Linked DNA regions of Homo sapiens. The protein of the gene in region 2 interacts with the protein of the main gene of each other region in a pairwise test. Each region holds a gene or a part of one and is shown on either strand. Other genes may lie near its edges. The genes, in order: CARD9, LZTS1, LMNB2 and NTAQ1.

Region 1 (7,021 bases), on a different chromosome or scaffold from region 2:
GGCGCCCGGGGCTGCACGCGACTCAGCAACCTCGGCGCGCCGCGCAGCGCAGTCCGCAGCATCCCGCTCGCCGGCTCCGTCCGCCCTGCCCCGGCCCCGCCCCGCCGCCATCTTGGAAGTGGGCGCCGGGCGGAAGCGGCGTTCTTGGGCTTCCGTCTTCCGGGTCGGGGGCGCGCTGCGCTATGCCGCCCCCTGGCGGCCTGAGGGGGCCCTGCGTCCACGTGCAGCTCGCACCCCGAGGACACCGCGGGCCGCAGCGAGGAGGGACGGCCGCGGGGCTGCGCGCGAGTGTCCGAGCGGGAATGCGGGTCACCCGTGCTGTTTATTTACGCAGCTGTGTTTTCTAACACTAATACAATGCATGCATGTATTGTGTGTTACATGGTGAAACAGAACAGATCCTGAAGTTACACAGATGGCGTGTGCATGGGGGTGGTGAGCACCCGCATGGCCTCCGCAAAATGAGTGCCGCTTAACAAACGGCCCCAATGCCCGGCAGTCCGGCTGGGCCTTTCAGGGCACCAGATTCCTCGTTCCAGGCCAAGTCAGCGACGGCTCGGGGAAGTCTGCGCCCCAGGGCGTCGGCACCCCCGGGTGGCAGGAGGCCGGGCCGGTGGGTGTGCCCTGGTCGGGGCCTGCGCTGCTGCGGCTAGGAGCCCTCAGTGTCGGTGTTGTCGCTGCCCGTGGTGTTCTCCCGGTCCTCCTCCCCCTGCCGCCATCCTTTCTGCATCTTCCTGAGGGCGCGCTTCCTGTGAAGACAGGTGTCTCAGGCGCGACCCGGCTGCCGCTCCCCAGCCCGTTTTGGAGAAGCCTGGGGGCCGCCCGCCTACCTGCGGTAGTTCTCAAAACTCTCTTTGAGGCGCCGCCGCTCCTTCTCGGGCGGCTCCCCGCTGCTCAGGCCTGCGTCCTGGAGAAGGGGGAAGGCTCGGGCTCCGGCCGGCTCCCCTGAGGGAACCCGTCCTTCTCACCCGCCCCCCACTGGCCCCTGTAACTGCAGACTGGTTGGGAGGCGAGGAGCCCAGACAGCCTCAGCTCAGCGCCAAGCTCTCCCTGTGGGACCTGCCTGTACCCCTGGAGGTGAGCCGGTGTGGGTAGCCTGCATTTCAGATGCCAAGACACACCCAGGAGGCCAAGCCACGGCTCCAGCCTGGGGTCCGGGCCATTGTTTCTACAACAAAGCCCGAGGTGGTGCTTGCTCTCAGGACTCCTGTGTTCACCTCCTCATCCACTGTAAAGGCCCTCGGAAAACCAGGACCAGGCACATCCACGTCCAAAAAGCCCCCCAAGCTGCTGCAGTGCCCAAGAAAGGGGGATCCACTTCGCAGCCCAGACACCGCACCCCGAGCACTGTGGGCAGAGACCTTGTGGTCACTCCTCAGCTGTCGTCGGGGCCACCGCAGGGGGTGCCCAGGGCAGGGAGCCACTCTCCCTGTGATCGGTCACCCTGAGGCCCACGGCTGGGAGGACCCCACCCCGGGGAAGCCTTACATGGGGGTTCCGCAAAACCTGCTCCTGGTGCAGAGCTGCAAAGGGCTGTTTCGGGCTCCCCCCGCCGGCAAGGCAGCCTGGAAAGGAGAGTCGTGCCTGTGGGACCTGCCCATCTGCTGGGCCACGTATAGCACGGCTGCCCCACCCCTCCCCGGCATTGCAGTGGGGCTGTCTTCCAAGGCCTGGTGGGATCCCCACATGGGTCCAGTGTAGACTCTGCTTTCTGTAGATGAGACTGAGGCCTTATGGCCTCGCTTGCCTGTTCATTGCTCCAGGAGGCCGCCAGATGCCAGCCCAGGCCCAACGCTCCCGCCAGTGACCATCCCTCCCCCGAGCTGGCTGCCTGCCAGGGAGGAACGCCTCCCAGACCTCGGGGGAACTTAAACCCTGGGCCTGAGCAGCACCGTCCCCCATCACTCCAAAGCATCTGTGGGCATGGCGGCCCTGGGGAGAGAGTTGGGGACAGCTACAGTGGCTGTCTGGGTCCTCCTGAAGTGGGGGCAGGGGTACTGCAGCAATTGGGAGAGAACCTTCAGGCGGCTGGACCCCCTCAGAAACCGCCAGGACCTGGGCAGACCAGGGATCAGGACCCTTGGGCAGAAACCACGCACGTCCAGTCTCAGCCCCACTGCGGTGAGGGCCAGGCCAGGGCTGTCCTGGCCATTGGCAGCCCCTTAGAGCCAGCCCCTCCCCTGCTCACCCTCCAACCTTCACACCTGCCCCTGCTCCTGCCACAGCCACCCAGGGGGATGGGGGCAGTGCCTGAGCCGGACTCCTGGGTCCTGCTCGCCTCTGTGCCTACATGGGGGCTTGGCATCCCCATGTTCAAGTGTTCTGAGCTGCAGCCAAAGGCGCTGGTCTTCACTTCCCCGTCTGCGGCTCCTCCTTCCCCTTCCGCCTCTGCTTGGAGGCCACGGCCTGGTACTCAGGAAGCTTGTCCAACTCCGGTGCAGCCTCCCAGGACCCCTCTGCTGGGCCCTCCCCAACCCCTACCTGACAGCACCTTCAGTGCAAACACCTACCTCATCACCACTGCCCACTCCTGGACACTCGGGAGCTGCTCCCAGCTAGCCACCCAGTCCTTCCCCCAGACAGGCAGAGGGGGCCTGCCCTGCCCGCTAGAAGCCCCTGCCACTGCCTTACCCCCACTGCACCGGGACACAGCAGGCCCTTGGCCACCCCTGCATTCAGCCCTTTCCCTCAAGCCACGTGGGGCCCCATCTCGCCCCATCTTCTAGCTTCATGCACCTGGTCGTTCGCTCGTTACCACCTCCCTCTGTCCAGGAGGAAGCTTGGAGCAGCCAGGACTGGGCCTGCTCACCTCTGCACCCCGTGGGGGCTGCCCAGAGGGGCCCCACACTCTCAGGACGGTGGGCCTGCTCACCTCTGCAGCCCATGGGGGCTGCCCAGACCCCCACACTCTCCACCCCAGGGGACACTTGTCCCACTAGCTGGGGCCCTGGGTTCCAGCTGGGCTCTGTAGTTTGTTCTCTAGGTGACCTTGACCATTTTACTTATCCCCAGCCCCAGTTTCCCTGTCTGTGGAGTGGGGGTTGTGGGGGTTGACACAGGCATTGCGGCACGGGCTGCCTGTGCTGAAGATGGGCCTCACTTGGGGAAGCTGGGAGGCCTCTGGGTGTACTGCTGTCCCCACCTCACCTTTGTCTGAGAGCTGGGTGTCCTCCAGGTCCTGGGGGAGTGAGAGCTTCCAAAGAGAGTCAAGATGTCCCATTAGGCCACTTCGCCAAGGACTGGACCCGGCCACACTGCCCACCCCAGCCCTTGGCCCTCAGCTGGGTGCAGCCATTGCCGTCACCCCCTGCACAGAGCTTCTCAGAGACTCAGGTGCCCAGCAGACGGACATTGGGCGGCCAGGAGGTGGGCACTGTCCGTGCCTTACCTTACCCCTTGAGCCATCAGAGGCCTTAGCATTTGGCCACCTGCTCTTCCTCCACCCAGCCCAGCCCACCGAGCAGGGCCATGTGACGGGCAGTGTGGGGCTATGCCTGGTGGCAGCTCAGCCAGGACCCCAGGTGAAGGAAGGCCAGCCTCGTGCTGGCTGGGGTCTCACTCACCTCCTGGGACCTCCTGGGTGAGCCATCTTCCAGGTCGGAGCTCTGTGGTCATAGAAAATGGGGTGGGTGGGCTGTGAGGGCAGAGGGCTCCCCAGGCACAGGGTGGGCAGGGCACAGAGCGGGATCCTCCAGGGAGCCCTGGGCATGCCCTCAGCCACACCAGGCCCCCTCCATGCCCAGAACAACCTGCTAGGCTGCCTGATGGCCAGGCCCAGGACCCACCCCGGCCCTGCAGCCCCACTTCCTGCTGGGACCCTGAACTGCTCGTGTGCCCTCACCCCACTGCCAGGAGGGGTTTGGTTAGGTTGGGGCCCGTCACAGAGAAGGGTTGGGTCGGGAAGGCCGGGGCTGAGGCTCCGTGCTCCCCTGGCCCTGCATCCCACGCGCCGGCTCCCCTCCCTGCCGCAGGCCCCAGGCCCACCAGGACGAGCGTCTCCAGCTGCTGCCGCCTGAGCCTGCCCTCCACGGCCAGTAGCTGCGCCTCACACTGGAACACCTGCAGCTGCAGCTCATCCGCCTTCTCGCCCAGCTCCCGCACCTGCTTGCGCAGCGCGTCCTTCTCCTGCAGGCCCCGGGCGTGCTGTGCGTGCAGCTCCTCCCGCGTGGCTATGGCCTGACGGGACAGCACAAGGCCGACCCTCAGTGAGGGCCCCAAGCTTGCCCTGGGCCCTCGGCCCGGCCGCCCAACTCCAAGCAGAGGCTCCGGAGGACGTCAAGCCGCTGGGCGCGGAGGCTGGTCACAGCCCCTCCATTTGTGTGCTCTGCGGACACGAAGTCAGCACGTGGGGGATTGTAAATGTGACAGTTGTCCCTGCTGCCCTTCTGTCTCCTCCCAAGCCTGCACCCCCGGTGGACACAGCGTGTGCTATGTACCCCCACACGTGCACATTTGATAAATTTTGGACGCGGCTTGATATGGAGACCCTGACTGTCCATAGCTAAGCGTCCTTCGTGACCGCAGCACTCTTTACCACCCCTGTCCTCACTGCGGACACTGAGACGCAGGAGCGAATGTGCAAACACGACGGCTTGACCACCCCTGCAGCCGAGGCTGGGAGGCCCTCACCTAACCCCTTCTGCCCAGACTGGAGCAACGGCTGGCAGCTTCCCTAATCCCTGGCCAACGCGCTCCCGGGAAGTCCCGTGGGAGCCCCCGCCCTGGGAGCCACACCAACCCCCATGGGGGCACAGCTGGATCTGCCCTTTTCCCCTGCCTTGGCGTGGGCCAGGCGCGAGTGAGGCTGAGGTGGGGCTGAGACAGGAGCTCTGAGCCTGGGCTGCTCTCATGGGGGCCGGGGCTTCCTTTGTAGCCCCAGGGGTCTCGTTTTAAGGCTCCTGATGTGGACAAAGTGCCATCCAGCATTTAGCCGAAGCAGCAATGGTGTCCATTGGAAACAACCTCCAGGATGGGACTTGGGACGGGGCATGGGAAGCAGACACAGCCCTGCCCCGCGACGCTCCATCCGGCTCACAGCACGTAGCACTGGAGGCCTTGCAGGCCTCACTCCCGTGGCCCAGGCTGGAGTGCAATAGCGCAATGGTGACTTGCTGCAGCCTCAGCCTCCTAAATAGCTGGGACCACAGGCATGCGCCACCACGACCAGTTAATTTTTTTTTTTTTTGAGACGGAGTCTCGCTCTGTCACCCAGGCTGGAGTACAGTAGCGTGATCTCAGCTCACTGCAACCTCTGCCTCCTGGGTTCAAGCAATTCTCCTGCCTCAGCCTCCTGAGTAGCTGGGATTACAGGCGCCCGGAACCACACCAGGCTAATTTTTGTGTTTTTAGTAGAGACGGGGTTTCCCCATACTGGCCAGGCTGGTCTCGAACTCCTGACCTCAAGTGAGCCGCCTGCCTCGCCCTCCTAGAGTGCTGGGATTATAGGCGTGAGCCACCGCGCCAGGCCAATTTTTGCATTTTTTTGTAGAGCAGGGATCTCACCGTGTTGCCCAGGCTGCTCTGGAACTCCTGGGCTCAAGTGATCCGCCCGCCTCAGCCTCCCAAAGTGCTGGGATGACAGGCGAGAGACACCACGTCCAGCCAAGCTTTTTTTAAGATTAAAAAAAGCTACTGGTAAAACAAGACAGAATGTTTCCATTTTTGTAAAACAAAACCAAATATATAAATAGATAGATAGGTGATAGATGATAGACAGATGGATACATGGATAGATGACAGGTAAGTCTGTAAGGTGGAGCGGGAAGGTTGAACACGGTTTTCCCTGACAGTAGGCTGGGGTGGGGAAGTATTGACTTCATCATCGTTTACTTTTTTTTAGTGTTAAGTATTGCTTCTGTCATTTAAAAAACAGACCAGGTGTGGCAGCTCAGCTTGCAATCCCAGCACTTTGGGAGGCTGAGGCCGGAGGATTGCTTGAGGCCAGTAGTTTGAGGCCACCCTGGGTGACATAGCAAGACCCCATCTCAAAAACAAATAACAAAGATTAAAAATCCTCTGACAACTGCCCTCAAGGGCCGTGGCCCTGGTGCACCCACCCGCGAGTGGGGTGCTTTGTCCTGCCCCTGCGAGTGCCCACCTGGTCCCGCTCAATGGCGACCTCCTCCATCTGCAGCAGGATGGCCTCGATGCGGTCCTTGTACATCTTGGAGTCCTTACGTAGTGCCAGGCACTGCAGCTCGAACATCTCCTTCTCCTCCATGCACTGCAGGGGGCGGCAGCTCAGCCCCCACAGGCCTGAGGCCCCCCATTCTGGCCCTTGGGGTATACTCCGGGCAGGGGCTCAGAAGCATGTGGTCAGGCCAGTTGGGATGTCGGGGGAGGCCATAGGAGTCCCCAGGCCCCTACCAGCCCTGCACTTCCAGACCGCGGCAGGACAGGGCCCTCCGGCAGGCCTCAGACACTGCTGTGCCTCAGGCACCATGAGCCCAGAGGTTGGCCTTTGCCATGGGGGGCAGGCGGGCAAGGAGAGGGCACCGTCCACTGTGCCTCCAGGAGTGGGTGAGTGGAGGCGCTGCACTGGGGTCTCCACACCCCACCTTCCAGGCACGGAGTGGGCGGAGCTCAGCCCGTCCAGCCTGGCTTGGACCCCAGGGGCCATGTCTCCCCGCCTGCCCTCCTACCCGGAGGCGTCGGGCCTCGCCCTGGCGGAGGTCCTTGCGCAGGGAGAAGATGGTGTTGGCCTGCTCCTGGTGGTCCCGCAGCGCCTGCCGCCAGTCCTCCTCCAGTACCTGGATGTAGGGGCTGCTCCTGTCCAGCTTCCCCTCCTGAAGGGGGCAAAAGGCAATGGCCTGGCTGGGAAGGCCCCCACTGCCCTGCCTGGGCTGCACCTGCCCTGCCTACGGCCCCACCTGGACGGAGGCCTCCAGCTCCTGCACCCGGGCCTGGAGCAGGGCCTTCTCCTGCTGCAGCTCCCACAGCAGCTCCTGGCTGGGCCGCTGCTCCATGGCGTGCCTGAGCTTCAGCGTGTGCTTGCGCTCCACCTTGCAGTCGTCCTCGGCCT
Region 2 (7,572 bases):
AAATATAAAAGATTAGCCAGGCGTGGTGGCAGGCGCCTATAGTCCCAGCTACTTGTGAGGGTGAGGCAGGAGAACTGCTTGAACCCAGGAGGTGGAGGTTGCGGTGAGCCAAGATCGCACCACTGCACTCCAGCCTGGGCGACAGAGCAAGACTCCGTCTCAAAAAAAAAAAAAAAAAAAAAAAAAGTGGGAGCCAGTTAAGTGGAGAAGGTAGAGAGACCAGGCAGGAATATTCCATGCAGAAGAAACAGTGTTTCTATGTTCAAAGGTAGCAGAATAACATGGACAGAGCCAGGGTCCAGAACCTTACTAAGCTGATCTCAAATCCCTGCCCCTCGGTTTTGTAGCCTGGCTAAATTACTTAACTCTCCTCATCTAATAATTATACATACCCCGCAGGGCTGCAGTGAAAATTAAATGAGATAATGAATAAAAAGTTCCAGGCACACAGTGGATTTAGTGGCTGGCATTAAGTGTTACGGTATTATCCATTACACTGGTCTATAAGGTGCTTACCCATAGGTCTGTCATCATTACATTATTCATCTTCCTAGCCTCGCTGCACAGCTCAGAGCCTTGCATTTGGTAGGCGCCCAATGAATATTTATGAAATGAACGTTGAATAAGCGCAAAGGCATATAAATAAGTTTTCAGGATTAGAAAGCCATTTATATACGTCTGGAGCCCATGTATAGCTTTGCTATACACGCTGACCCACGGCTTCTCAAAACTGAAAGGCACATCTTTCCCTCACACACTCCCAAAGCATTGGCTTTCCCCAGGGCACCCCACGCAGCAGCACTCCTTCTATGACAGCACCCCTGCCCCACATCGACCCAGGCACACACAGCTGGGGGCACCTCCTGCAGATACACAAATGCACAAGCTGAACTGCTGAGACAGGTTTACCTCGTGAAGCACACAGCCGCTGCTATAAATGTTAACTAACAACCATCTTCAGCACATCAAATGTCCCGCCCTCCCTTTTGCTTGCATATAGACACCCACAGAGATGCCCGTTCTTTTTCTACTAGTTTTCTTCTCTTCTTAAGCAGAGTGAGCGCCCCACACTCACATCCACCCAGCTGAGACCTCTTACTAGGACTCCCAGTTGCTCCATCCTATTAGCTGTGGGACCTTAGGGAAAGCCTTTCCCTTCTGACGCCTCCGTTTCTTCACTGGCAGGCACAGAGAGCCCACCGCACCAACCTGGTAGTTATGTTGTGAGGATAAAGGAGATAACGTATGAGATAACGTCTATGATGAGCAGAAAGAGCCTCCAAAGAAAAGCGCTGGATAAATACAAGGTGTAACGCCACGCCTGATTAGCCTGCATGCTCTCTGCCCACAGACTTCTACCCACAGACTATGTTCCACTCCACTCTTAAACACAAACACCTTTCCCGTCTGTACATGCTATCTCTAATACCCATATGCGCACACTCTTCGGGCACCTCCATTCTCCCTCTGGATGCCTGCAGAAAATTGTTTTTGAACTTAGAGAAAGCTCAGGTTGCAAACACCCTCTTGCCGGTACCCGCAGACTCTTCTCAGGGTCTTGGTGCAGGAACTGCCAAGCAGATAGCTCATCTCTTTGTGGCTGGGCTCCTGGGCTCCCAGCATTCCTATTAGGCTGCACTTCCAGCAGAGTGTGGGATCCTTATTAGGAGCAGCGCCTGCCCGGCATGGTCCAGAACTCAGTGCCTCCTCAGTACTTTCCCAGCGCCCGGGACCAGAGAGTAGAGGGGCTGATGGCAGCGGGACGGTGTGGAGGGAATAAGTGAGACAGGAAACACTTTAGGAGGCCAGATCCCTAAGCACTTCTTATTCCTGGGAAATTGAAGACTGCGAAGCTAACAAGTCTGGAGCACTTTCCCAGGCCTGACATACTCGTGGGCGAGCACAAGGCTCATTTGCTCCACAGTTCAAACCTTTCCACTTGGAGCACGAAAAAGAGACATCACCTGGCCCTTGGTGTCTCGGGGATGCCTGTTGCTGCCAAGCTGCGACCTCTGAAGCCCCTCCAGCCAGAGCAAAGCCTGTGGCAGGGTGGAGGGGTGAGGTCTGGCTGCCTAGGGTGGCGGTGGAAGAAGTGAAGGTAGTGTGGGGCTGTCTGTGTGTGCATGGTGCTTTGACTAAATTCCTGAATTGCACATCCAGGACCGACCCCAGGAAGCTGCAGCCCCAGGGAGCCACTTAGACACTTCGATTTACCACCTTCCTCTCTAACCACCTCCGCCCGTGTGACTTATTCCTTGAGGGAAACCTTTCAAATCTCTGGCTGCAACGCACCGGTGTCCTCCCCACCGGTGTGGACACAGCTCATCTGCAAAGTTCCAGGCGGCGAAGTTCAGCGGCCCGGACCGACCGCCGGACCCTCTTCCTGCGGCCCCTGCTCCTGCGGCCTCGCGTCCCCACCTCCCACTTCTTCACCTCCGACACCAGTGTCACCTAACACTGACGTCCCCGCCAGGATCAGCATCGGTGCTGGGAATAGACGAACCCCGTCTGCAGGAGACACGAAGACAAAGACAGGAGGACAGACGCACAGTCACCTCCTCTGGGCCGGGCCGGAGAAGCGGCGCCCACCCTGCAGAGGGGAGACCCTGACAGCTCCACGCGGAGACAAAGACACCTCGACAGCCACGGACACAGACAGACAAAGACCGACGGACGCGCGGACGCACGGACGGTCCGGCCCGGCGAGGGGAAAGCGGTTTCCCGCAGCCAGGGCAGCAGACCCTCCAGGGGCGAGGAGATCCCCGGCCACCGCACCTTACCTGCCCCCTGCGCCTCGGGCGCACTTGAGACTTTTTTTTTTTCCCAGTGTTTCCCGGTGTGTTCCCGTCTCTCTTTTTCCAGAGCTGCTGAGCGGGCCGGGCCGGTCCCACTGCGCGGGATGCAGCTCCCGGCTCCCACTCACTGGCCGAGGCGGGCAGAGAAACTTTCGGCCTCCCCGCCCGGCCGCTGCCAACCCGCCAGCTCCAGGCGCGCCGGCCTCTGCGCGGGTCCCGGAGCCGGGGCGGGGCGGGGCGGGGCGGGGCGGGGCGGGGCCGGCCCGGGGCGGGGCCAGAGCCGGCGCCGCTGATTGGCAGCGAGCTGCCGGCAGCCTGGTCTGTGCCGCTCGGCGGCCTTTGTTCCGGGCTGACAGCTGGGGCTGCTCGCGACCTCGCGGCTCCTTCGCGCCCGCGGCCTGCGCGGGGTCCCGGGTCCCGTCTCTCTGCTCTCACTTCCATCAGCCCCATTGGGCGACCCTGCCCCCTCAGTCTTCCTTTCTTGCCTGGCCCCCTTTCTCCGATTGTTCCTGTCTTGCTCTTGTCGCATCCTTTTTTCCCTTTCATTACCTGAAATTCTTACTCCAGTTTTGTTTAAAATCCATTCCTTCTCCCGTTCTGTGTATGTTCCCCTTTCTTCATTACCCCTTCCTCTTAATCGCCAGTTTATTTTTCTTAATACCGTCTCTCCCGCTCCCGACTCGCACTAAAGGGCGTGTGTTTTGTTCAAGGACTGGACTAGCACCCAAGTGAGGGGCATTGCGAACCACACCAGGATTACAGGCTAGAGTCCAGAGCACCGGGACTCCCACTCCCAAAACATGTCAAAAGCAAACTTTTCCAGCTCTGAGGGAGCTGAGTTTCAGGTGACAGCAGAGGCCTGTTTCAAGTTTATAGCTATTAGTCTCACCCAGTCCCCTTATAATACTATCATTTTCTCAACCACCCTCACTTTTAACTTCTAGCAACTGAGCCAGGAGAGGATTCAAGCTTACAAGGTTTTGTAGGACAAAGGGTCAGTTAACCGGAGTGCTAGGTGCAGCATGAGGCTTGGGGGCTTGAGGGTGCACTGAGGCTAATCCTCTAAAACCAGGCTTGGCGGGAAGATGGCAGCTCTGCCCAAGGAGTGTTAGCCTCATCTTGAAAGAAGCCTGTGTGTGTGTGTGTGTGTGTGTGTGTGTGTGTGTGTGTGTGTTGGGGGGTGGGGGATAGATGTAATGGATTAGGATTGACATAGCCGATCTGATTATAAATAGCATGGGGGCCGGACGCGGTGGCTCATGCCTGTAATCTCAGCACTTTGGGAGGCCGAGGTTGGTGGATCACTTGAGGTCAGGAGTTGAAGACCAGCCTGGCCAACATGGTGAAACCCCGTCTCTACTAAAAAAAAAAAAAAAAAAAAATACAAAAATTAGCTGGGTGTGGTGGCAGGAGCCTGTAATCCCAGCTACTTGGGAGGCTGAGGCTTGGGAATTGCTTGAGCCTGGAAGGCAGAGGTTGCAGTGAGCCAAGATAGTGCCACTGCACTCCAGCCTGGGTGACAGAGTGACACCGTGTCTCAAAATAAATAAATAAATAAATAAATACAAAAAAATTAAATAGAATTGTGGTGGCAGGGGGGACAGCTCAAAGGAAAACAAGCCATATGGTTTCTGCCACACCCCTGCTCAAAACCCTGTAGGGGAATCTCACTGCCTTCGGTTGTTGACCCTGAAGACTCTGACCTTCGAATCTAGGCTTCCTGAAAGATGGCACCGCGAGGGTTTAAGAACACAGACAGGCTTCGCTGCTTGTTATTTGAGCCATTACCTTCCCCTCCCTCTTTCTCAGTTTTTCTTTTTCTTTCTTTCTTTTTTTATTTGTGAAATGAGGTAACAAGTCCCAGTGTAAATTCCCTGAAGGCAGGAACTTGTTCTCTTTTATTGGTGGCTGAGGGACTTGGTCTGTTTTATTCATAGATGTATCCCCGACACCTAGAACTTGCCAGGCAACATAGTAGGCACTCAATATGTATTTGTTAAATGAATGAATTTCTCATGTATAGGTTTGTTCTGATGATTAAATGAAACCCACTGCCTTGCGGTAAGTACATACACGTGGCAGTAATTACAAGCAATACGACAATTTCTAAGTGTCAACCCCAAAGGCTACTCAGCCTTTTCCTGAACATCACCTCCTTTTCCCCACCTTTGTATAAACCTGCCCCTCAGTCTGAAAAGCTTTTCTCCTGCTCTTCTAACTCTACCTCTCAAAATCTGAGACAAAATATGGAACCCTTACTCACACCTTCTCTTATCGTCCAGGGCAAAATAATGTCTTCTTTTTCTAAAGCGCCATGCTTCTTTGTGTTGCATTTATTGACAGAGAACATGTATTCTTGCTTGCTGGTGAGAGTATCTCAAGAATTTTAGCTGAATGAGTTAATATCGATCAAACATTCCAGCGCTTTAAGGAAAGAGCAGACTCCTGGAAGGTAGATTAAGGTATGAGGTGGGCTCCAGACTTCAAACTCATTTTCACATCGTCGGAGGTGAGATTCCATGGAAGAGACAAAGGACTCTGGAAGCCCACTTTTTGTTCTGGCCCTACTGCTGACTATATGCTCTTGGACAAGCCATGTCCCTAATGAGGCCTCAGTTTCCTCATCTGGAAAGTGGATGGTTTGGAGTCCCTGATGAGACCTCAGTTTCCTATCTGGAAAGTGGATGGTTTGGAGTCCCTGATGAGGCCTCAGTTTCCTCATCTGGAAAGTGGATGGTTTGGATGAGAAGATACTCCTTAAGGACCCTCCTTCAGCACTGACACCTTTGTCAGTGACATTCTAGGTGAAAGCTGGGTATGATGTGCAGCCTTCCTGGAATGACTGAGTCAGGCAAAGGGTATGAGCAGTGTGTTGGTTTGTGTATGAGCGGTGGAAATGGGATACCCTATGGAACAACAGAAACACCCTGTGGAAGGGATACTTTAGAGACAGAATGCATAGAGAGTGGGGCTGGAAATGAGAAGGCAGAGTGGAGAAGGAGACCAGTGATGGACAGCACAGCATGTGTGTATGTATTATGGTTCCGTATGTGTGCATGAAAGCCTCAGGAATGTGGTCTCCAGCAGCACAAAGCCATAATTAGCTCCCTGATTCAGCAGTTGGGTATGGTAATGCAATGGCTGGGTGTGTCTACCCCCAACACCACCGGTAGGTTCTCAGTGTGGCTCCTTTTCTTCCTTGTCTAGTGAAGGGGCGCTGCCCTTCCTTAGTGTCTGGGTTCCCGAGAGGTGTCTTATGTGAAACTCTGCATCCCTCAGGCTCTCCCTTGCCTGAGTCGAGTCTAGAAAGCTGGGTCACAAAACATTTCTTGTAAAAATCTCCTACCCTCCTCCTGTATTCATCACCTGAGATACAGAGCATCATGCTTCATCTCTAGGACCTAAGATTGGCCACACTGGACCAGACCCATAGACCAGTTAAGCCAGCAGCTTGTTTGGATTACAGACAACTCTGCCTTCCTCAAGGTACTGTCACCTATCACAATTTAATTAATTCCCTGGCTTCTTGTTTGTCTGTTCATCTCTTCTGCAAGTTTCTTGTTCAAAGATCATGTCTGTCTTAGTCAACATTGAATCCACAGAACTCAGCACATTATTGGTACAAAGCAAGCGCTCAAAAAATACTAGAATGAGTGCTATGAGGGGAGGGAGGCGAGATGATGTTTCAGAGAGATAAATTGACTCAAATTCAGAAAATCCACGTGTATTCCTACTTCTTCCAATCTGCAGTCTTCTCACAACCCTTTGGAGGTTTAGTTTGCTATCAGTGAAAGAAGCCTAATAACATTTTCCCTATCTATCTTTTGGCAACAATACAAAATGAAAAGAATTAATAAAGTCAAAGGTGTTATGAAAAATACAAAATATCAAATAATTTTTTAATATTATTTCAAGTCTCAAAATCCAGGGCCTTGTGTTAAGAGAAAAGAAATGCTGACTATATTTAAGTGAGGTTGGATAATCTCCAAAAGCCGGTGAAAAAATATGAGCCTAGACAACTGAGCAAAGCTTTAAGGAATCAACTGAGGCCACTCCTGATTTCCCAGTGACCCCAGTAAAGGTCCAGGGAGAGCAGTTTTTCTGCAGTCAGAGCCAATGGTCCCATGACCTTAGAAGATGTCTTACCATCCCTGTCTTTTTCCAGGGTAGAAAACAGTTCCCGTGGAGTTGCTTTGAATGTGCAACTTTTATAACAAGAATTTTCATTCCTTACCTGTAGGTCTCTGACCACCTTGAATCTCTTATCTCTGGGCTTCAGGAGACTTGTCTCTGAATTGGAAGGACCATCTCTTTTTTCTTTAAATTTATTTATTTATTTTTTATTTTTTTTGAGACGGAGTCTCGCTCTGTCGCCCAGACTGGAGTGCAGTGGTGCCATCTCGGCTCACTGCAAGCTCCGCCTCCCGGGTTCATGCCATTCTCCTGCCTCAGCCTCCCGAGTAGCTGGGACTACAGGCGCCCACCACCACGCCCGGCTAATTTTTTGTATTTTTAGTAGAGACGGGGTTTCACTGTGTTAGTCAGGATGGTCTCGATCTCCTGACCTTGTGATCCGCCCACCTCGGCCTCCCAAAGTGCTGGGATTACAGGCGTGAGCCACCACGCCTGGCCAGGACCATCTCTCCTCTGTCTTCTCTGCATGTTATAAAGACAAATGAGATAAAATGAAAGTAGTTTTTCTACTTTCCTCGAAAGTGCTGCATGACTTCAAGAAATTGTTAATCATCATCATCACTAGCATTATGATTCATAACTT
Region 3 (7,013 bases), on a different chromosome or scaffold from region 2:
GAGAGTCTTGCGCTGTCATCCAGGCTGGAGTGAAATGGTGCAATCATAGCTCACTGCAGCCTCCACCTCCTGGGCTTAAGCCATCTCCTTGACTCGGCCTCCCAAGTAGCTGGGGATACAGATGCACGCCACCACGACCAACTAATTAAAAAAATTTTTTTGTAGGGGCCGGGTGCAGTGGCTCACACCTGTAATCCCAGCACTTTGCGAAACCGAGGTGAGCAGATCACTTGAGGTCCAGAGTTCAAGACCAGCCTGGCCAACATGAGGAAACTCTACAAAAATACAAAAATTAGCCAGGCATGGTGGCGCATGCCTGTCATCCCAGCTACTCAGGAGGCTGAGGCAGGAGAATCTCTTGAACCCAGGAGGAGGAGGTTGCAGTGAGCCAAGATTGGGCCACTGCACTCCAGCCTGGGGGACAGAAAGACTCTGTCTCCAAAAAAAAAAAAAAAAAAAAAACTGTAGAGTATTGTAGAGTTGGGTCTTGCTATGTTGCCCAGGCTGGTCTCAAACTCCTGGGCTCAAGCCATTTTCTTGTCTCAGCCTCCCAGAGTGGCTGGGATTGCAGGTGTGAGCCACCATGCCAGGCTTCCTGCCTGGGTTCTAAGGCTGGGGGTCTATCTGGTAAGAGGGGAATAATAGCGAGTGAATGTTGGCTGTTGGAGGCAGGTGGGCTCTTTCCCCTGGTGTCCTCAGTAGGCTGGAAAGGGCATTAGATTCTCAGTGTGTGATTTACTGGGGTCTCTGGCAGAGGCTGAGCCAAACCCCCAAGGTGAGATGTGTAAAAAGGAGGAGTTCCCCAGGCAGAAGGAAGACCGGGCCAGTTCTAGGTCAGGAGGAAGTTATTCTCCAATTGGGGCAATTTTGCCCCTCTGGTGACATGTGGCAATCTCTGGAGACATACTTGGTTTTCATAACTAGGGGGCCGGGGTCGGACGCGGTGGCTGACGCCTGTAATCCCAGCAACGTGGGAGGCCAAGGCGGGCAGATCATTTGAGGTCAGGAGTTCAAGACCAGCCTGGCCAACATGGCAAAACCCTGTCTCTACTAAAAATACAGAAACTTAGCCGGGCATGGTGGCAAGTGCCTGTAATCCCAGCTACTCGGGAGAGTGAGGCAGGAGAATCGCTGGAACCCGGGAGGCGGAGGTTGCAATGAGCCGAGATCACGCCACTGCACTGCAGCCTGGGCCACAGAGCGAGACCCGCCTCAACTAAAAATAAAAATAAAATAAAAAATAAGTATGAGGCTGGGATGCTCGTGGCATGGAGTGGGTGGAGACCGAGGATGCTGCTCAATACCCTGTAATGGACAGCACCTCCTGACTCCAACCCCCTGCAACAGAGAGTGATCTGGCCCCAAATATCTAGTGCAGAGTTGGAGAAACACTGCTGTATAGGTTGTCTTGTTAAATTACAATTTTGGGGGGTTTTTTTTGGAGACGGAGTCTTGCTCTGTCGCCCAGGCTGGAGTGCAGTGGTGTGATCTCAGCTCACTGCAACCTTTGCCTCCTGGGTTCAAGCGATTCTCGTGCCTCAGCCTCCCAAGTAGCTGGGATTACAGGCGTACACCACCACGCCTGGCTAATTTTTGTACTTTTTGGAGAGACAGGTTTTTGCCATTTTGGCCAGGCTGGTCTCGAACTCCTGGCCTCAGGTGGTCTGCCCGCCTCGGCCTCCCAAAGTGCTGAGATTACAGGCATGAGCCACCGCGCCTGGCCTTGTTAAATAAAATGTATGGCAGGCCATTGTTTTAGACAATGGGGTCTCTAGTCCCCAGCAGACCAGATAAAATTGGAATGGAGTCACTAGTGCCAGGTACCACGTAGTCAAACTGATCTTTTATTTTTTTTATTTTTTGAAATAGGGTCTCGCTCCGTTGCCCACACTGGAGTGCAGTGGCGCAATCATGGCTGACTGCAGACTTGAACTCCTGGATGCAAGCCATTCTCCTGCCTCAGCCTCCCGAGGAGCTGGGACTACAGGTGTGTGCCAGCACATGTGGCTAATTATTAAAAATTTTTTTGGCTGGGTGCCGTGGCTCACGCCTGTAACTGCAGCACTTTGGGAGGTCGAGGTGGGTGGATCACGAGGTCAGGAGTTCAGGACCAGCCTGGCCAAGATGGTGAAACCAGGTCTCTACTAAAAATACAAACATTAGCTGGGCATGGTGGCGGGTGCCTGTAATCCCAGCTACTCGGGAGGCAGAGAATTGCTTGAACCCAGGAGGTGGAGGTTGCAGTGAGCCGAGATCATGCCATTGCACTCCAGCCTGGGTGACAAGAGCAAGACTCTGTCTCCAAAAAAAAAAAATTTTTTTTTTTGGAGACAGAGTCTCACTATGTTGCCCAGGATGTTCTCAAACTCCTAGGCTTAAGCGATCTCCCCATCTCAGCCTCCCAAAGTGCTGAGATTACAGGTGAGAGCCACCCGTACCTGGCCTCAAACTGAACTTTAAAGGGTGCAGGTTTTCAAAAAAAAACATTCACAGCCACCAAGCCAAAGGGGACCGGTTAACCTGATAGGGAAGTACCCTCAAAATAGAGGGGGTTAAAACAGACCCTATGAAAAAAGTAACTTTGAAACAACCAATTGGTTTTTATTTCGTATTTTTATTTTTACTTTTTTTGAGACAAACTCTCACTCTGTCACCCAGGCTGGAATGCAGTGATGTGATCAGGGCTCACTGCAACCTTGACCTCTCTTGCTCAAACAATCCTGCCACCTTAGCCTCCCAAATACCTAGGACTATAGGCGCCCAGCTAATTTTTTTTTTTTTTTTTTTTTGAGGTGGAGTCTTACTCTGTTGCCTAGGCTGGAGTGCAGTGGTTCAATCTTGGCTCCCTGCAACCTCCGCCTCCCGGGTTAAAGCAATTCTCCTGCCTCAGCTTCCCGAGTAGCTGAGACTACAGGCATGTGCCACCATGCCTGGCTAATTTTTGTATTTTTAGTAGAGACGGGATTTCACCATATTGGTCAGGCTGGTCTCGAACTCCTGACCTCATGATCTGCCCGGCTTGGCCTCCTAAAGTGCTGGGAATACAGGTGTGAGCCACTGCACCTGGCTAATTTTTTTATTTTTATTTTTAGAAATGGGGTCTTGCTATGTTGCCCAGGCCAGTCTCAAACTCCTGGGCTCAGGCTATCCTCCCACCTCCGCCTCCCAAAGTGCTGGCATTACAGGCGTGAGCAAACCACTGTACCTGGCCTGGCTTTTATTTTAATTCTTATTTCTCCTTTCTTCAGCCTTTTCTGCCTGTAATGCAGAATGCCCATCCTCTCTGCTCAGCTCATTGGAGTGCCTATTTAATAGATTGAATGCTATCCAATTCATGAATTGCTAATAAGAGCCAATGAGATCATTAAACTCAATTTGTTGAAATTCATACTCCTTGACAGCCTCTTCTGGACATTTTATATCAGTGGCATTGTACACTATATGGCTTTTTTTTTTTTTTTTTTTTTTTTTTGAGACAAAGTTTCTCATTGTTGCCCAGGCTGGAGTGCAGTGCCGCGATCTTGGCTTACTGCAACCTCCACGTCCCAAGTTCAAGAGATTCTCCTGCCTCAGCCTCCCAAGTAGCTGGGATTACCGGCGCGCGCCTCCGTAGTAGAGATGGTGTGGGGGGGTCTCCCTATGTGGTCCAGGCTGATCTCGAAATTCTTTTCTCAAGTGATCCACCGGCCTTGGCCTCCCAAAGTGCTGGGATTACAGGCGTGAGCCACCACGCCCGGCCCTATATGGCCTTTTGTGTCTGGTTCTTTGAACACGTTTTGAGGTTCTCTAAGTGGGGAAACAGGTACTAGAAAGCAACCCAACGCTGTTTCCTCGTGGCGGAGCTGGGAGTTTGCAGCCAGGAAGTCTGTCTCTGGAGTCAGCGCCTCTGCGAAGCGAGAGCTGGACGGAGACTTCAACTTCCGGCGTGCCCCGCGCGCGCCCGGCGGTCGGACTACCAGTCCCAGGCTGCCCCGCCGCGGCGGGCGGCGGGCGCGGCGCGGCGCGGCGCCATCTTGCAGCCGGCGGCGCGGATTGAATGAGCCCGCCGAGCCCGGGCCGCCGTCGGGAGCAGCGCAGGCCGCGAGCCGCCGCCACCATGGCCACGCCGCTGCCCGGCCGCGCGGGCGGGCCCGCCACGCCGCTGTCGCCCACGCGCCTGTCGCGGCTGCAGGAGAAGGAGGAGCTGCGCGAGCTCAACGACCGCCTGGCGCACTACATCGACCGCGTCCGCGCGCTGGAGCTGGAGAACGACCGGCTCCTGCTCAAGATCTCAGAGAAGGAGGAGGTGACCACGCGCGAGGTGGGCGCCGGGGCTTAGGGGCCGGGCGGGGGTGCAGCCGGCAGGCCCCGCCCACCGCGGGGCGCGCGATCGCGGGGACCCTGGGCGGGGGTGCAGACGGGGACGGGCCCCGGCTTCGGGGGTTTCCGCGGGGTTTCGGGGGGCCCCTGAGTGAGGGGTGCAGCTCGGCCAGGTCCCTCCCACCGCGGGGTGGGCAATCGCTGGGACCCTGGGTGCAGACAGGGACGGGCCCGGGTCTCGAGGGTCTCCAGGGGGTTTCGAGGGGCCCCTGAGTGAGCGGTGCAGTTCGGCCAGGCCCCGCCCACCGCGGGGTGCGTGATCGCGGGGACCCTGGGCGGGGGTGCAGACGGGGACAGGCTCCGGCTCGGGGGTCTCCAGGAGGTTTGGGGGCTTCTGAGTGAGGGGTGCTGCTCGGCTAGGCCCAGCCCACTGCGGGGCTCCCAGTCGCGGGGAACCCTGAGCTGGGATGCAGACGGGGACAGTCCGGCCTCGGGGATCTCCGCCGCGTTTCGGAGAGTCCCTGAGTGAAAGGTGCTACTCGGCCAGGCCCCGCCCACCACGGGGCGCGCGATCGCGGGGGACTCTGAACGACTCCCGGCTTGGGGTCTCCAGGGGGTTTGCGGGGGGCTCCTGGATGAAGGGTGCAGGTCCTGGCCACCGCGGGGTGCGCGATCGCGGGGACCCTGGGCAGGGGTGCAGACCGGGAAGGGTCCCGGCTTGGGGGTCTCCAGGGGGTTTCAAGGGGTCCCTGAGTGAGGGGTGCAGCTCGGCCAGGCCCAGCCCACCGCGGAGTACGCGATCACGGGGGACCCTGAGCAGGGGTGGGGTCAGCCTGGCCTCGGGGATCTCCAGGGGGAGACCCTGAGTGAGGGGTGCCACCTGGGCAGGCCCTGCCCACCGCAGTTTCCGAGATCTTGGGGGACCCCTTGGGAGGGGTGCAGACCGGAGTGGCCCATTCTCTTGGGGACCTCCAGGGGGTTTCTAGGGCACTGAGTGAAAAGTGCAGACCAGGAATGCCCCACCTATGGAGGGGGTCCCAGGAGATCTTCCGTGTCCTGAGTGAGGGCTGCAGAGGGGCCTCCAGCTAGCTCTGGGGACCCTTCCGTGAGAGGTGCATTTTGGGGCCATGGGGGTTACAGACTAGGGCTCCCCACCAAAGAGAGGTCCTGGGGATTTGGGGGCTCCCTGAGTATTGGGCTGCAGCCCCCCATATGCCTCGTCCCTCAGAGGATTCCAAGGAGACTTGGCGGACCCCCCCCAACTGAGGGGGTGTGAGTGGGAGTCTCTGGGGATGAAGCTGGGTATTGGGGTATCTGGGGTGGAATGGGGGTGGTCTCTGGGCTCCAAGGAGACTGGGGGGCCCAGGCCCTCTGAGGAGGCCCAAGATGGGGTGTGTGGGGGGTCTCCCTGGAGTCTCTGGGGTGAGTCACGTGGTCTCAGTTCTCCCTGGAGCTTTAGCGAGTTCCCTGATGAATCCAGAAGAGATTGGTGACTGGGGTGGGAATTAGGCCCCTCATCTCTCACCAGGCCCAGGGTGGGTAGGGGGCCGAGGGAGAGGTTCTGATACCTTGGGGTCCCACGGGAAATTTGGGAGTCCCTTATTTGTGCCCTGGTGTCAGCGGTGGTCTGGCAGGTTCTGCCCCCAAGAGAATATGAAGGAAGGGTGAGAGTTGGGATCTTGGGTCCGGTGGAAAGTGTTGAGGTTCTGAATGGGCCCCGAGGCTTCAGTGCAGACTGAAGGAGAAGAGGCGGGAAAGTCTGCCCACCAAGGGGACATGAGGTCGGGGTGTCTTGGGGTCTGGGTGCAATCTGTCCTGCCCCCCAACCTAACCCTGGGGAGGCTCTTTGTCCCTCCCACTGGCCATGCCCAATCCAAGGACAGGACTCCAGAACGGGGGGCAGGCAGGAGCACCCACTTGATTCCTGCCATGGGTTGGGGTCCTGGGGTCCCTAGGCCCCAGTGTCCTGTTGGGAGAGCTGGGTGCCGAAGTCGGGATTTGCAGCGCCCAGTCCCCACTCGCCCATCTGGAGATCAGAGGACGTGGTGGGCTTCTGGGAGAAGAGCTGCTTGTTGAGGGGGTCGGGTCATTTCTGGGAGCCACTTACCCTCTGTGTGACCTTGGGCTAGTCGCTTACCCTCTCTGGGTCTCAGTGCCCTCGCCTTTGGAATGGGTGTAATTATAATACCCACCTCTTACTTGTGTGTGGGGCCACAGCAGGTTAACTTTTGTTCAGTAGCTCCCTGTGGGTTGTTTTCACAGTGCCCTGGGGACAGGGAACCTGAAAGAATGTAGCTGGTGCCTTCAGGGAGGTAGAAGGAAGATCAGTGCTTGGTGGGATCCCCTGCTTTTCTTTCTTTTTTTTTTTTTTTTTTTTTGAGATAGAGTCTCGCTCCGTCGTCCAGGCTGGAGTGCAGTGGCGCGATCTTAGCTCCCCGCACCCTCTGCCTCCCGGGTTCAAGTGATTCTCCTGCCCCCGTCTCCCGAGTAGCTGGGATTACAGGTGTTCACCACCATGCCCGGCTCATTTTTGTATTTTTAGTAGAGACAGAGTTTGGCCTTGTTGGTCAGGCTGGTCTCAAACTCCTGGCCTCAGGTGATCTGCCTGCCTCGGCCTCCCAAAGTACTGGGATTACAGGTGTGAGCCGCCGTGCCTGGCCAGTCCCCTGCTTTTCAATTAGTGTGGCTTTGGGCAGGCCCCTGTGTCTCTTGGA
Region 4 (7,021 bases), about 100 Mb from region 2:
ATGGTGTTTCACCATGTTGGCCAGGCTGGTCTCAAACTCTTGATCTCAAGTGATCCACCTACCTCAGCCTCCCAAAGTGCTGGGATTACAGAGTGAGCCACCGTGCCCAGCCTATGCTTATTTTTAGAGACAGGGTCTCACTCCATAGCCCAGGCTGAATGAAGTGCAGTGGCTCAACCACAGCTCACTGCAGCCTCAAACTCCCAGCCTCAGCCTCCTGAGTAGCTGGGACCACAGATGCACATCACCACACCCAACTAATTTTAAAAATTATTTTTGTGTGTGTGGAGACAAGGTCTTGCCATGTTGCTCAGGCTGGTCTTGAACTGCTGAGCTCAAGCAATCTTCCCACCTCAATCTTCCTAAGTACTGGGATTACAGGTATGAGCCACTGTGCCTGGCCTTCTCAAGAGGCCTGATTTTTAGAAAGTTCTTTCTCATACTGAACTGAAATCAATCTTCCCATACCTTTGCCCCAGATGAATCTCTCTTCTACGTGACAGGTCTTTGGCTATCTGAAGCAGTAGTCAGAACCCACCTAAGTAAAGTGATGCCCAGTAGTACATCAAACAGAGCAGTAACTGAGCTGCACCTCCATGCACAGGAAACCAGTCACTTCGGGCAGTACTCACAGCTCAGCTGTTGGGTTCCTATCTTTTTCTAGTAAGATACACGCACCTTTGCTCAAAATGAGGTACACTAACACTCTGTTCACAGAATGTGGCTCAGTCTGTCAAAGCCTAGTTTCTTTTTTGCAGGGGGGAGCGGGGACGGAGTCTCGCTCTGTCACCCAGGCTGGAGTGCAGTGACACAATCTCAGCTCACTACAACCTCCACCTCCTGGATTCAAGCGATTCTCCTGCCTCAGCCTCCCAAGTAGCTGGGACTACAGATGCATGCCACCACTTCTGGCTAATTTTTGTATTTGTAGTAGAGATGGGGTTTCACATGTTGGCCATCACATGTTGGCCATGGCTGGTCTTGAACTCCTGACCTCAGGTGATCCACCTGCCTCGGCCTCCCAAAATACTGGGATTACAGGTGTGAGCCACCACGCCCGGCCCAAAGCCTAATTTCATCCACGCCATGCTACCTAAAAATGAAGCAAGGCATGAACAGCCCTGAGGATGGTCACCATCTTACAGAAGTAGACACTCTTTCAGTTCATCAATCTTTGCCTTGCCTGTCTCAAATGCTCTATAAAACTAGGCTTAAAATACGGAAGTTGGACATGTTTTTCTCCCATGGTTTTCCTTTTCTCTAAAATAACTAGGAAACTACAAGGGAAAAGTGATGGTTGTGGTTAAAAAAAAAAAAAAGTGGGGGGGTGGGAAGATTGCTACTGCTACTGACTACTTCATATGATATGTACTATAGAGTAATAAAAATTTACTGACTGGGCCGGGCATGGTGGCTTACGTCTGTAATCCCAGCACTTTGGGAGGCTGAGGCACGTGGATCACCTGAGGTCAGGAGTTTGAGACCAGTCTGGCCAATATGGTGAAACTCTGTCTCTACTAAAAATACAAAAATTAGCTGGGCGTGGTGGCTGATGCCTGTAATCCCAGCTACTCGGGAGGCTGAGGCAGGAGAATCGCTTGAAACCAGGAGGCGGAGGTTGCAGTGAGCCAAGATTGTGTCACTGCACTCCAGCCTGGGCGACAGAGAGAGACAACCTCTAAAAAAAAAAATTTTATTGACTGTTTCAACATGACATATGGTATATGTCATATTACGTCACAATAAAATTTCCTTAATCTAAATGTTCTAAGGCCAGGTTTGAAGAAGACAATTATCTCTCTGGCTTATACAAGTTTTTCGGGAGTTTACCGCAAATACCTTCAAGAGCTTATAATGTACAAAATACTGTGCTAAGTGCTTGGAGGATATGATGATAAATTAGAGCTTACAGACCATGAGCAGAGACATACAAATCCATAACTGGCAAGCATCATAGAAGGCCATAAAAGATGCATGCAGAAAGGAAGAGGGTGTCATTAATTCGGAGGGATATGGGAAGAGGTATAGGTTGTAGTTTCTCTTTGTTCATTCCCCTCTAAGGGTGGGCTTAGAGTTAATACAAAGGGGCCAGGCGAGGTGGTTCATGCCTGTAATCCAGGCACTTTGGGAGGCCAAGGCAGGCGGATCACCTGAGGTCAGAAGTTTAAGACCTTGGATCACCTGAGGTTGGGAGTTCAAGACCAGCCTGGCCAACATGACGAAACCCTATTAAAAATACAAAAATTAATGGCCAGGCGCAGCAGCTCACGCCTGTAATCCCAGCACTCTGGGAGGCCGAAGCGGGTGGATCATGAGGTCAGGCGTTCAAGACCAGCCTGGCCAACATAGTGAAACCCCGTCTCTACTAAAAATACAAAAAATTAGATGGGTGTGGTGGCAGGCACCTGTAATCCCAGCTACTCAGGAGGCTGAGGCAGGAGAATTGCTTGAACCTGGGAGGCGGCGGTTGCAGCAAGCTGAGATCGTGCTACTGCACTCCAGCCCAGGCAACAGTGCAAGACTTCGTCTTAAAAAAAAAAAAATACAAAAATTAGCTAGGCGTGGTGGCACAAACCTGTAATCCCAGCTACTTGGGAGGCTGAGGCATGAGAATCACTTGAGCCCGGGAGGCACAGGTTGCAGTGAGCCAAGATCGCACCACTGCACTCCAGCCTGGGTGACAGAGTGAGACTTCATCTCAAAAAAAAAAAAAAAAAACGCATAAAAATAAAAACACAAAATCAGCCGGGCGTAGGAGCATGCACCTATAATCCCAGTTACTCAGGAGGCTGAGGCACAAGACTCACTTGAACCCGAGAGGCAGAGGTTGTAATAAGCCAAGATTGCACGACTGCTCCTCCAGCCTGGGTGACAGAGCAAGACTCCATCTAAAAATTAAAAATAATAATAATAATAATAAAAACTACAAAGAGTTCATGAATCCACAGATACCACAAGCACCACTGGTAAGCTGAATACATAATGTGGCTTGAACATACACTGTTATTTTTGAAATATATGTAAATGTTACACAGAAAAAAATGTAAACTTCGTAAAAGTCACTGACTTTTTAGTCCCTTTTAGTCAGCAATTGTTTTTCAAGAGCATAACGAATATCATGTAGGAGAATCCCATGAAAGTTTCAATGTTAAAAAAAAGGGGGAGATGATCTTATACTCGGAAATACAAGGAGTCACAGCTGAAACAAAAATACCTGTAGGTGGGGTGCAGTAGCTCACAACTGTAATCCCAATGCCTCGGCTGAGGTGGGAGGATAACTTGAGCTCAGGAGTTTGAAACCAGCCTAGGCAATGTAGCAAGACCCTCCGGAAAGAAAAAGAAAGAAAGAAAGAAAAAGAGAAACAGAAGAGAAGGAAAAGGAGGGAAAGGAAGGAAAAGGAGGGAAAGGGAGGAAAAGGAGGGAAAGGAAGGAAAGGAGGGAAAGGAAGGAAAAGAAAGACAAAGAAAGAAAAAAGAAGAGAAGAGAAAACAAAAGAAGAGAAGGAAGGAAAGAGAGAGACAGAAAGAAAGGAGGGAAGGAGGGAGGGAAGGAGGGAGAGAGGGAAGGAAGGAAGGGAGGGAGGGAAAGGAAGGAAGAGCAAGCGAGTTGTGGAAGAATTAGAAGAAACTATTCTAAAACTCATATGCACCAAAAAAGAGCCCAAACAGCCAAAACAATCCTAAGCAAAAAGAACAAAGCTGTAGGCGTCACACTACCCAACTTCAAATTATACTAGAAGGCTATAGTAACCAAAACAGCATGGTACTGGTACAAAAACAGACACACGGACCAATGGAACAGGTTAGAGAACCCAGAAATAAAGCCGCATATTTACATTTACAACCATCTGATCTTCAACAAAGTCCAATAACAAGCAATGGGGAAAGGATTCCCTATTTAATAAATGATGCTGGGATAGCTGGCTAACCATATGCAGAAGATTGAAACTTGACCCCTCCCTTTCACCATATACAAAAATCAACTCAAGATGGATTAAAGACTTAAATGTAATACCTAAAACTATAAAACCCTAGAAGAAAACCTAGGAAATACCACTCCAGACATAGGCCCTGGCAAAGATTTCATGATGAAGACTCCAAAAGCAACGGCAACAAAAACAAAAATTGACAAGTGAGACCTAATTAAACTAAAGAGCTCTGCACAGCAAAAAAAAAAAAAAAAACTATCAATGGAGTAAATAGACAACCTACAGCCAGGCATGGTGAGGCTCGTGCTTGTAATCCCAGCACTTTGGGAAACCCAGGCAGGAAGATCACTTGAGCCCAAGAGTTCAAGATGAGCCTGGGCAACATAGAGAGACCCTGTCTCCACAAAAAGTAAAAAAAATTAACCAGGCATGCTGGCACACATCTCTAATTTCAGTTGCTTGGGAGGCTGACGTGAGAGGATTACTTGAGCCTGGGAGGTCAAGTCTGCAATGAGCTATAATTGTGCCACTGCACTCCAGCCTGGGTGACAGAGTGAGACCCTGTCTCAAAAAAAAAAACCCAAAACAAAAAACAGACTACCTACAGAATGCAAGAAAATATTTGCAAACTATGCATCTGATAAAGTCTAATATCCAGAATCTATAAGGAACTTAAATAAACAAGCAAAAAACAACCCCATTAAAAAATAGGCCAAGGACATGAACAGATACTTCTTCTCAAAAGCAGATAGGCACAGTGGCTCACATCTATAATCTCAGCACTTTGGGAGGCCAAGGCGCGTGGATCACTTGAGGTCAGGAGTTCAAGACCAGCCTGGCCAACATGGTGAAACATTGTCTCTATTAAAAATACAAAACTTAGGCTGGGCGCGGTGGCTCACGCCTGTAATCCCAGCACTTTGGGAGGCCGAGGCAGGCGGATCACGAGGTCAGGAGATCCAGACCACGGTGAAACCCTGTCTCTACTAAAAAAAAATACAAAAAATTAGCCGGGTGTGGTGGTGGACACCTGCAGCCCCAGCTACTCGGGAGGCTGAGGCAGGAGAATGGTGTGAACCCAGGAGACGGAGCTTGCAGTGAGCCAAGATCACGCCACTGCACTCCAGCCTGAGCAACAGAGCAAGACTCCGTCTCAAAAAAAAAAAAGAAAAGAAAAATACAAAACTTAGCTGGGCATGGTGGTGCACACCTGTAATCCCAGCTACTCTGGAGGCTCAGCTGGGAGCATCACTTGAACCTGGGAGGCAGAGGTTGCAGTGAGCCGAGATCGAGCCACTGCACTCCACCCTGGGCAACAGAGTAAGACTCCATCTCAAAAAAAAAAAAAAGGAAAAAGAGACATGCACATGGCCAATAAGCATATGAAGAAATGCTCAACAACACTAATCATTAGAGAAACGCAAATCAAAACCACAATGAGATACCATCTCACTCCAGTCAGAATGACTATTCTTAAAGTCAGGCCAGGTGCAGTAGCTCACATCTGTAATCCCAACAGTTCGGGAGGCCAAGGCAGGAAGACTGCTTGAGCCCAAAAGTTCAAGACCAGCCTGGGCAACATGGCACAACCCCACACTACAAAAAATATAAAAATTAGCTGGGCATGGTGGTGCACACCTGTAGCCCCAGTTACTCGGGAGACTGAAGTGGGAGAATTGATTGACACCAGGTCGAGGCTGCAGTGAGCCATGATTGCACCACTGCACTCCAGCCTGGGTGACAGAGTGAGATTCTGTCTCAAAAAAATGAATAAATAGGCCGGGTACGGCAGCTCATGCCTATAATCCCAGCACTTTGGGAGGCCGAGGCAGGCAGACCAAGAGGTCAAGAGATCAAGATAATCTTGGCCAACATGGTGAAACCCCGTCTCTACTAAAAATACACAAATTAGCTGGGCATGGTGGTGCATGCCTGTAGTCCCAGCTACTTAGGAGGCTGAAGCAGAACCGCTTGAACCCAGGAGGCGGAGGTTGCAGCGAGCCTAGATTGCACCACTGCACTCCAGCCTGGTGACAGAGTAAGAATCCGTCTTAAATAAATAAATAAATAAATAAAAATAAACAAATAAAAATAATTTAAGAAGTCAAAAAAGTGGTGATGCCCACCTGTACTCCCAGCTACTTAGGAAGCTGAGGTGAGAGGATCACTTAAGCCCAGGAAGTTGAGGTTGCAGTGAGTCATGATCATGCCACTGCACTGTAAGCCTAGGTGACAGAGTGAGACCCTGTCTCAAAAAAAAAAAAAAAAAAAGGCAAAAAATAACAGACGCTGGCAAGTTGGTGGAGAAAAGGGGATGCTTATACACTCCTGGTGGGAATGTAAATTAGTTAAGCCACTGTGGAAAGCAGTTTGGAGATTTTTCAAAGAACTTGAAACAGAACTATGATGCGACCTAGCAATCCCATTACTGTGTATATACCCAAAGGAATATAAATCCTACTATTAAGACACATGCACATATATGTTCATCACAGCACTATTCATGATAGCAAAGATGTAGAATCAACCTAGGCACCTATCAATGGTGAACTGGATCAAGAAAATGTGGTATATATCATCCACCATGGAATACTACACAGCAATGACAAAGAACAAAAATCATGTCATTTGCAGCAACATGGATGGAGCTGGAGGCCAATATCCCAAGTGAATTAACACAGGGACAGAAAAGCAAACACTGAATATTCTTGCGTATAAGTGGGAGCTAAACCTTGAGTACACATGGACACAAAAAAGGAAACAGTAGACATGGGGCCTACTTGAGGGTAGAGGGTGACAGGAGGGTGAGGATCAAAACTATCTATCTGGTAGTATGCTCACTATCTGGGTGACAAAATAATTTGTACACCAAACCCCCAACACATACACTTTACCCATGTAACAAACCTGCACATGTAACCCCAAATCTAAAATAAAAGTTGGAAGGGAAAAAAACTCAAACAAAATATGTGATTGGATAATATCTGAAATGTTCTTTAAACTCTAAACAAAAGCATAAGGGACTCAAAAAAGGGAGAGAGGGAGGGAGGGAAGAAAGGAATGAAGGAAGGAGGGAGGGAGGGAGGGAAGAA

The links.
Region 1: the proteins of LZTS1 (region 2) and CARD9 interact in binary tests that used the Homo sapiens proteins (3 or more experiments, as listed by UniProt).
Region 3: the proteins of LZTS1 (region 2) and LMNB2 interact in binary tests that used the Homo sapiens proteins (3 or more experiments, as listed by UniProt).
Region 4: the proteins of LZTS1 (region 2) and NTAQ1 interact in binary tests that used the Homo sapiens proteins (3 or more experiments, as listed by UniProt).

The regions. Positions count from the first base shown.
Region 1 is NC_000009.12:136,363,653-136,370,673, forward strand, and holds the end of CARD9 (caspase recruitment domain-containing protein 9), read right to left. Parts: coding exon 6,870-7,021; intron 6,786-6,869; coding exon 6,642-6,785; intron 6,224-6,641; coding exon 6,098-6,223; intron 5,646-6,097; exon of another isoform or gene 4,177-5,645; coding exon 3,985-4,176; exon of another isoform or gene 3,972-3,984; intron 3,606-3,971; coding exon 3,564-3,605; intron 3,194-3,563; coding exon 3,148-3,193; intron 1,566-3,147; coding exon 1,489-1,565; intron 908-1,488; coding exon 831-907; intron 750-830; coding exon 650-749; 3' UTR 511-649; coding exon of another isoform or gene 473-510; 3' UTR 304-472; downstream 1-303. Other genes in the region: DNLZ (DNL-type zinc finger protein), read right to left, coding at 1-62. UniProt on the Homo sapiens protein: Adapter protein that plays a key role in innate immune response against fungi by forming signaling complexes downstream of C-type lectin receptors.
Region 2 is NC_000008.11:20,300,960-20,308,531, forward strand, and holds the start of LZTS1 (leucine zipper putative tumor suppressor 1), read right to left. Parts: upstream 3,005-7,572; 5' UTR 2,781-3,004; intron 1-2,780. UniProt on the Homo sapiens protein: Involved in the regulation of cell growth. May stabilize the active CDC2-cyclin B1 complex and thereby contribute to the regulation of the cell cycle and the prevention of uncontrolled cell proliferation. May act as a tumor suppressor.
Region 3 is NC_000019.10:2,453,957-2,460,969, reverse strand, and holds the start of LMNB2 (lamin-B2), read left to right. Parts: upstream 1-4,010; 5' UTR 4,011-4,036; coding exon 4,037-4,300; intron 4,301-7,013. UniProt on the Homo sapiens protein: Lamins are intermediate filament proteins that assemble into a filamentous meshwork, and which constitute the major components of the nuclear lamina, a fibrous layer on the nucleoplasmic side of the inner nuclear membrane.
Region 4 is NC_000008.11:123,419,770-123,426,790, reverse strand, and holds part of NTAQ1 (protein N-terminal glutamine amidohydrolase), read right to left. Parts: intron 1-7,021. UniProt on the Homo sapiens protein: Mediates the side-chain deamidation of N-terminal glutamine residues to glutamate, an important step in N-end rule pathway of protein degradation.